3 separate regions of the Homo sapiens genome follow, and all the other regions are linked to region 3. The links come from fine-mapping of genetic effects on gene expression. A gene starts in region 3. Each other region holds a variant in brackets. All regions are shown on one strand. Distances are between the middles of the regions. Region 1 holds the start of CLPS (colipase). Region 2 holds the start of SLC26A8 (solute carrier family 26 member 8). Region 3 holds the start of SRPK1 (SRSF protein kinase 1).

What was found. PIP is the estimated chance that this variant, and not a neighbour inherited with it, causes the effect.
Region 1: its variant is fine-mapped to the expression of SRPK1 in pancreas (GTEx, PIP above 0.99).
Region 2: its variant is fine-mapped to the expression of SRPK1 in whole blood (TOPMed, PIP above 0.99).

The regions. Positions count from the first base shown.
Region 1 is chr6:35,795,945-35,798,788 of GRCh38, forward strand. CLPS (colipase) reads right to left here and starts at 1,379. Exons shown (of 3, transcript NM_001832.4): 1 at 1,261-1,379. The coding sequence starts at 1,344. The variant T/TTA (reference allele first, on the strand shown) is at 1,733.
Region 2 is chr6:36,022,373-36,025,216 of GRCh38, forward strand. SLC26A8 (solute carrier family 26 member 8) reads right to left here and starts at 2,269. Exons shown (of 20, transcript NM_052961.4): 1 at 2,132-2,269. RefSeq lists enhancers at 1,714-2,215, 2,216-2,715. The variant C/T (reference allele first, on the strand shown) is at 1,673.
Region 3 is chr6:35,919,885-35,922,384 of GRCh38, forward strand. SRPK1 (SRSF protein kinase 1) reads right to left here and starts at 1,214. Exons shown (of 16, transcript NM_003137.5): 1 at 1,160-1,214; 2 at 584-644. The coding sequence starts at 1,172. RefSeq lists silencers at 877-1,466, 1,497-1,556.

The sequences.
Region 1 (2,844 bases), 120 kb before region 3:
TCTCCCCTGGTAGGGATGTGTGTGAAGGAGTCCATCCCCTGGGTCTGGTGGCCTCTGTGCCCCCCACCCACGTGAGAAGTGGGCATGCGGTGACAGAGAAGCAGACTTGCACAGAGGGTCAGGACCCCTGGGTTCTAGTACCGGCTGTGCTACCAACCTCCTGTGTGACTCTGGGCAAGTCACTGCCTCCCAAGCCTCAGTGTTCCCATTTGGAATGTGCACACAAGGCCCCTAGACAAGTTCTCCAAACCACTCTGGGTCCCACACCTCTTTAAGGAGGCGGTGAAGATTGCATCTCCCTGCAAGACTCCTTCCTCCCCCAACAGATCTGATCTATAATCTCCAAGGGTCCTGGACCTCCAAGTCCAGCCATGGCCCCAAGTTAAGAGAGTTCAGAACCTTTCAACCGCATGGACGTTCTGGAAGGGCTTTCCCAGCCAAGACCCATGGTGGAGAGGTGGTGTGGGGCAGTGGTGGGGCCCCAGCTGAACCACTTTCCAGCTATGTGACCTCAGGCAGGTTGCTCACCCTCTCTCTGTCTGAAGACAGGGCTGACTCTGAAAACACCTCCCTCAGTGGTTATTATGAGAACAGAATGAGTAAACATCTCCGAGGCATCTCCATAAGTCAGAAGCTGGAATGATTGGCGCAAAGCATTTTCTCAGGATGGAAGCCCAGGGCTCTGGATTTTTACAAAGCTCCCTCGTAGGGCCAGGTGAGGTGGCTCATGCCTGTAATCCCAGCACTTTGGGAGGCCGAGGTGGGCGGATCACGAGGTCAGGAGTTTGAGACTAGCCTGGGCAACATGGTGAAACCCTATTTCTACTAAAAATACAAAAAATAGCTGAGCGTTATGGCAGGCACCTGTAATCCCAGCTTCTTGGGAGGCTGAGGCAGGAGAATCATTTGAACCCGGGAAGCAGAGATTGCAGTGAGCCGAGATTGTGCCACTACACTCCAGCCTGGTGACAGAGCAAGACTCCGTTTCAAAAAGAAAAAAAAGAAAAAAAAGGTCCCTCATAGCCAGGTTGAGCTGCTGCTCTGAGCATGCTCCAGTTGGAGCTGGAGAGGGGCTGATCAGCCTTTCCTGTGGCCTCTGGGAAGAGGCATAGGACAGGACATGGAAGTAAACAGAGGGATGCAAGATGCCACTCCTCCCAGCCCCTGCCAGTCCAGGTGGAGACATCAGAGGTCAAGGTCCAAGCTTAGGAAGTCTTCATCTGGGGACTCAGGAGGCGCCTCCCCTGAAGACCCTCTTACCAGGTTGATAATGATCCCCCGGGGGCCAGGAGCTGCATAGGCCACAGAGAGGGCGACAAGCAGGAGGATCAGGATCTTCTCCATGGTGAGTGGGACAGCTGGTGTGGGTGGCGGGAGACAGAGCCAGCTGTGGTGATGGGGCTATAAAAGGGGCCCTGACCTCACGAGATCCACCTGCATCCCACAGGGCTGGCCGTGGGCAGAGGCACAGCTGTGGCCAATCTGCTGTGGGGCGGTTCCTGATAAGGAAACTGGGTGAGTACCTGGTGGCCTTTTTCGTGTGTGTGTGTGTGTGTGTGTGTGTGTGTGTGTGTGTGTTGGTGATAATTGTGTTGCATCGTGGTTAAGAGTATGGACTGTGTACAAGTTATTAGTGAGGCAAACTTACTATCTGTTCCAACTATTCTGCCTTTCATCTTATCTGTCAACTAAGGATAATTTAAAGAGTTGTGAGGGTTGAATTAATACACAT[T/TTA]TATGTGTTACATATATATAAACATTATTATATACAATTATAAGAATATATTTATATTGTATATTCCCATATGCCACATAAGCAGTGGGTAAGGGTGGCTGCCCTTGTGTCTTGAGCTCCTGGGCAGTGCCTGGACGAATCCAAGGCAAGAGAGGCACCTATGGTGTGAGTGCCTGCTTACATTCTGTGTACTTGGGGCCTCTCTGCCTCACTATAGTCAGGCCTTGCCTTTGGCCCACCCAAGCCCAGGTGTCTAGCAGTGTCAGACTCCAGGGACGAGGATCCTAGCCTCCCACCCCTCAACCTTCCTTCAGTCTCCTCGGGGGATTCCAGGCCATGCCCAGATCCCTGGGGCTGACAGTTCTGCAACCCCCAGCAGGCCAGGGTGTGTGTGCTTTCACTTTGGCACCCTCCCCCTGCCCTCACACCAGGGGCTGCCTGCAGGCCTGACTCAAGGGCCCTTAGGAGGCCCTTCCTAAATGCCTCTCTCCCCTTTCCTTTCTACCTCACTTACTATCTGCAATTCCAGCATCAGATACTCACCCCTTTAGTTAAGGTTTCCACTCACGCTGCCCCCTACCCAAGGCCACGTGCGCGCGTGAGCAGTCGCTAGTCCTGGCTGAGAATGAAGAGGTCTCATGAGCCTCAGATGGAGCAGGGGCCTCAGGAAGCTGGGAAGGGCACAGCTGCCTGAGTTTGCTCAGGCATGGGAACAGAGCAGCTTTTCCTGAAGGACTAGTCATGGCAGCCAGAGGCCCCTGCCCTTCCCCTCTCCATCCCAGGAGGTAGAAGACAGCTCCACTGAGAGGCCCAGGCCTCAAGCACAGCTTTTAATTTAATTTAATTTAATTTTTTGAGACAAGGTCTCACTCTGTCACCTAGGCCGAAGTGCAGTTGTGCCATCTTGGCTCACTGCAGCCTCCACCTCCTGAGATCAAGCAATCTTCCCCCTAAGCCTCCCAGGTCTAAAACTCGTGGGCTCAAGCAATCTTCCCACCTCGGCCTCCTAAAGTGTTGGGATTACAGGTGTGAGCCACTGTGCCCAGCCTCAAGCACAGCTTTGATCCAGACCAAGCTGGCTTCAAAATTCAGCATTTACTGGAGCTACGTGG
Region 2 (2,844 bases), 100 kb after region 3:
CACTGGCTACATGTGGCTATTTAAACTTAAAATAAAAAATTCAGATCCTCAATTATACTAGCTAGATTTCAAGTGCTCAACAGCCACATATGGCTAGTGGTTACCTTACTGGACAGTGCAGATATGCAGATATAAAAAATTTCCATCATCACAAAAAGTTGTTGGACAGTGGAGATAGGAGAGACTGAGGCAAAACAGCCAATTGGAGACCATTAATATTAGTCTAGGAGATGTTATCAAGTCATAAACTCCTACGACCACAGTGAGGATGGCTAGGAGGAGCAGGTGGAAAGTTGTCTTTAAGGAACTCCATCAAATGTCTGGCTAACAGCAGCAAGGGTAAACGCATGGTTTCCTTATTATTTTTTTTAAGTAATTTTCTTTGGAATTTCTCCAGCTCCATTATGTCTTTCTTGATTTCATAGAAATCCTAGTGGCTCATTTTCATGTACTAGCAGGACACTTCCCAAGAAGATGCAATGACCAGAAACTCCTACTGTTGAGTAGGCCCCACTTAGCAAGACCTACTGAATCAGAAACTCTGGGGGCCATCAGTCTGTTTTAAGAAGCTGTCCAGACTGCTGGGCCCCCAGAGATTCTGATTCAGTAGGTCTTGCTAGGTAGAAAAAAAGCAAAGAAGCTGTCCAGGTGATTCTGATAAAAATTAAAGTATGACTACCACTATAAATATAGTGGATTATCTTTCATGAGCCTTTCAGTGCTAAATTTGGGGGCCCTGTTAAAATACAAGCACTTTTGGCCTAGCTCTTTCACCCTCCATAGTACCCTTATCCATCCATCCATCCATCCATCCATCCATCCATCCATCCATCCATTTATCTAATTATTTACATTATCTGTGTTCAGAGTGCTTTAAAAGTAAAGAATAGGCCAGACATGGCTCAGTGGCTCATGCCTGTAATCCCAGCACTTTGGAAGGCCAAGGCGGTTGGATCAGCTGAGGTCAGGAGTTCAAGACCAGCCTGGCCAACATGGTGAAACCCCGTCTCTAATAAAAATACAAAAATTAGCCGAGCATGATGGCGTGCCTGTAGTCCTGGCTACTCAGGAGGGTGAGGCAGGAGAATCGCTTGAACCTAGGAGGCAGAGGTTGCAGTGAACCGAGATCAAACCACTGCATTCCAGCCTGGGCGACAGAGCAAGACTCTGTCTCAAAAAAAAAAAAAAAAAAAAAAGTCAAGAATAAAAAGTTTAAATACAATCCAATTTTTTAGCTATTGACCCAAATAATATGAAATCTTGAAAGCTAGTTTAGTTGCAGGAATATCTTCCCCCTGATATTGTTAACTTTCTTATGTTTTCTATAATCACGGAAAGGCAAAATTTACTTCCGAATTTTCAAAATAAGCATTTGTAATTCCATCAGAAACAACCCTACACCTGTTACTACCTAGGTTTTTATGGAGAATGTATTGGGAATACAGAAAAGGTATAAGCAAAGAGCCTGGCCTTTAGATCCTTTAGTCACTCTGGCTAGTGGCTAGGGATGACTAGTAAGATGACAGTCCTTAAGCGGATGACCATTGGACACATAAACATAGGACAACCACCTTCCATGCAATGTGGATAGAGTAACATGGTGTGTTGGAGAGATGCTCATTATTGGGGTGGGGGTGCTGGAGAAGGCTTCACGGGGCCCCTGACACATCAA[C/T]GGCATTTGACATGAAAAGAAAGGGGCAAGGAGGTGGGGGTGGGGATTCAGTCACAGGGAACAAAATTAACAAAAGCAGTGGGGTCTGAAAGGAAGAGGAACGGCCGGGCAGTCAGGCCTCAGGAGGAAATGGATGGGGTAGGCGGTGGGGTGCAGGTAGCACGTCAGTTCTGGGGCTTTTGACAATATAGACAGGAGAATTTGAAAGGATGCAGCTTGCAAAACGCACACACTGTTGTCTCTTGTCATTGCCATCCACACGGCCTTTGAAAGTAGAGACAATACCTCAGAGATAAGCTCCCAGGGACGACCATCATTCATTCATTCCACAGATACTGACTGAGTGCCCACGGCGTGCCTGGCTCTGCGGCATACCTGGGTACCTGCCGGTGACGGACGCAGCCCCCGCCCTGGGACCTGCAGCCCCCGGCGCCCAGGCGTCTCCCAGCAGCGGCTCACCTGGCTCCTTGGCGGGGGCGGGAGTGCGGGCGCTGGGATCCCACACGGCTCTCGCCTGGCTGGCGGCGCTGCGGACGCGGATACCGGCGGCGGTTCCCGAGCCGTTGTGGCCTAGCCCGCGGGCGTTCCGGGCGGGCTGAGGAGATGAGAGTGGGGGAGGGGACGAGGAAGAGGAGCATGAGCAGCTGGGCTAGGGAGCCAGGAAAGTGGTACCTGGGTCGCCCTCCTCATACCTGAGTCGTGGGATCCCCTTGGTATTTGGTAAACCTGTATACCAAGGCTCCTTCTCTCTCCGAGGTTTTGCTATTCTTGATCGAGGGCCTATTTGGTGCCAGGCCTCGTGTCCTGAACATACAGCAGTGCACATGTGTCACATGTGTACTGCACAGACGGTAATTCACTAACGTCTCCGGAAGACTTAAGCCTTCCTCAGGTCAGAAGAGGTAAAAAGAAATGGAGGCTAGGAGGGTCACCCAGGTCTCCAACCATAGGCTGTCTGCCCCACAAACCCGGCTCTCCCCACTGAATGACACCCTCCTGCCCAGATCTGCTCTGGATGCAGACATGCCATCTGCACTCACTCCCTTTACCCTCCTCCCACCCTATCCCTGTCCCTAGCACTGTCTCTCACTCCACCTTGTATTCCTGCTTGGCCCAGTTACAGTTTTACACTTGTTTGTTTGATGACTGTGTTAATGTCTACCTTATAATGC
Region 3 (2,500 bases):
CCGACTGTATACACAGCGGTCTGCCGGCACACTGCAAAAAAGCCGATACGCCTTACAGGCTCAGGAAGTTGACTAACCCAGGGAAAAGCCCCATGCCCTCCTCTATGAAAGGGAGTGTGTGGTTGGTAGAACCCAAAGTAAACACGGAAAAATTCATTCAAGAATTTCCTTAAGGCCTACCGTGAAGACGTCGGAGGCAAGTTAAGACGTTGGGGAGCAGGTAAGAGAGACCAGAGTTCAGAAACAGACCGATAATGATCTACCAGCTCCGGTGGGGAGGTCCAAGCTAGGGGAGTTTGTGCCTCCTCTGTGGAGTTGGGGAGGAAAGGTACCGGGCGGGCTCTGGTCCTCCTCCGACAGCCCTTTCCAGCAGGCCCGGGGCTGCTAAGACCCAGGCCTGGCGTTGAGCAACAGCAGCTCTCTTCCACATGGTTGCTGGAGAGCGACCCTCCGAGCTGCCCCGAGGCCATGTGGCTGCAGCCACAGGGTGCCCAAACCCGGTGCACGTTCAAGACGTGAAACCAGAGCAGAGAAGGTGCCGGAGGAAAATCCAAAGAATGGGATGTTGGGGTACAAGACTCACTTCCTTTGGGCTTTGTCCTTCTTGGCCTTGGTCCTTTTCTTTCGGGCCTGGAGCGCAAGCACTGCAGGAGAGAGGGATGGATGAAGGGCGAATGTGGAGGAAAGGAGGCGACCAAGGTGAGGGTGGAGACCCAGCAGGGGCGCCAGGCCCGGCTGCGGGGCCTGCCTCGGGGGCGGCTGCGGGCTCCGGCGAGGCGGCCGGCCGTGGGGCTGGCGGCCCACGGGGCGCAGAGCAGCGCCCGGGCGGGATGCGCCGGAGGGGTCTCAGGCCGGGTCAGGGGGCGGGCGGGTGGGGGTCTGCGTCGCCCGCCAAGGGCCGGGCCCTGGAGTGGCCCCAAGGCGCGAGCCGGCCTGGCGGGGAACAAGGGGCGGCTACGGCCGGCGCCAGAGGACGCCCGGACTGAGGGGCGCGGACCCGCAGCCCAGAGGCAGGGGGTGTGGGGCGGCGCCACCTCAGTGGAGGGGCGCCGCACGTCCGGGAACCGAACCGCGGCAGTTAAGCGAAGCTCCCGGCGCTGACCCGGGCCTCGCCCCGGCGACCATTGCCCCTCGTGGCGGAGGCCGCTCCACCGCTCACCTTTCCGCTCCATGGTGAGACCGGTAATCGCCAGGCGCCTGCGCACTCGAGTGGCGGCGACTCCCGCTCCCGCCGCGGCCCAAAACCGAGCCCGCTCACACTCCGCCCTCAGTCCCGCCCCACCCCCGCCCCACGATGCCGCGCGCTTGCGCGTTGGGCGCGGAGCCTACCACCTGCTCCCGAGGAGGGGGCGGCAAGGAGAGGGAGGGGGCGCAGCGGGGAGGAACGCCGGGGTGAACGTTGAAGGAGTGTTAGAGATCCAAGCTTGGAAACCTGGCAAGGTTAGTTTTGTTCTATTTGTTTAGAAAAGGCGCAGAGAGCGGCAGGGCTCTCTGCATGCTGCTGAGTCAGAGCTTCGGAGGCAACTGGGATCTGCCTCAGTTTCCTGGCCTGTAAAATGGATTAATCAGGCATGTCCCAGTTTCTCCTTCCCTGAGCTATTGTGAGCCCAGTTGAGATACTATTTAAAGAAAATGGAAAAAAATTACATGTGAGAAAGAAAAGGGAGTGGGAGCAACACAAAAAGACTGGAAGGAAAGAACCTGTGACCCTATTATCACTTGAAAAGTAAAAACTTCAAAAGTGAATTTTCTCTTGAAATTTCAAGTTTAAGTGAAAGCTGTAAAGGAAAGAAGGGGAAATGAGAATAAAAACGTTTAATGTTTTCTTATTCTACCACCTTCAATACATGATAAAGCTGTCTTGTTTATAAGTTTTTTTTGTTTTTATTTTCTAAGTGCATTATCTCATTTGATGTTTATGGCAACTTAAAGGCAAAATAGTTATTACTTCCATTACACAAAGACACTAAACTTAAGAGGGCCTGCCTATATGTTCAGAATCTTGGTGTACGACCCAGTTATTTAATCATGAAGCCCTTATTGTATAGCAGGCTCAGCAAAGTTTTTCTTTGGGCCGTACAGTAAATATTTAGGCTTTGTGGACCATAAGATCTCTTTCTCAGCTACTCAACTCTGCCATTGGAGCTCAAAAGCAGTCATAGAAAATATGGGCTGTGTTCCTATAAAGATTTATGTATGGACACTGAAATTTGAATTTCATATAATTTTCACGTCATAAAATGTTCTTCTATTGATTTAAACATGGTCTTTGTTAGGTTTTGAAGGGAAGGTGAGGGTTAAAGAAAGACAGAGAGAGCAGTCTTGCTCTGCTGCCTAGGCCGGAGTACAGTGGCATGATCTCGGCTCACTGCAGCCTGGACATCCAGGGCTCAAGTGATCCTCCCACCTCAGCCTCCCAAGGTGCTGGAATTACAGGTGTGAGCCACTGAGCCAGGCCCTTTTGATCTTTTTTCAACCGTTTCAACGGTTATTCTTATTT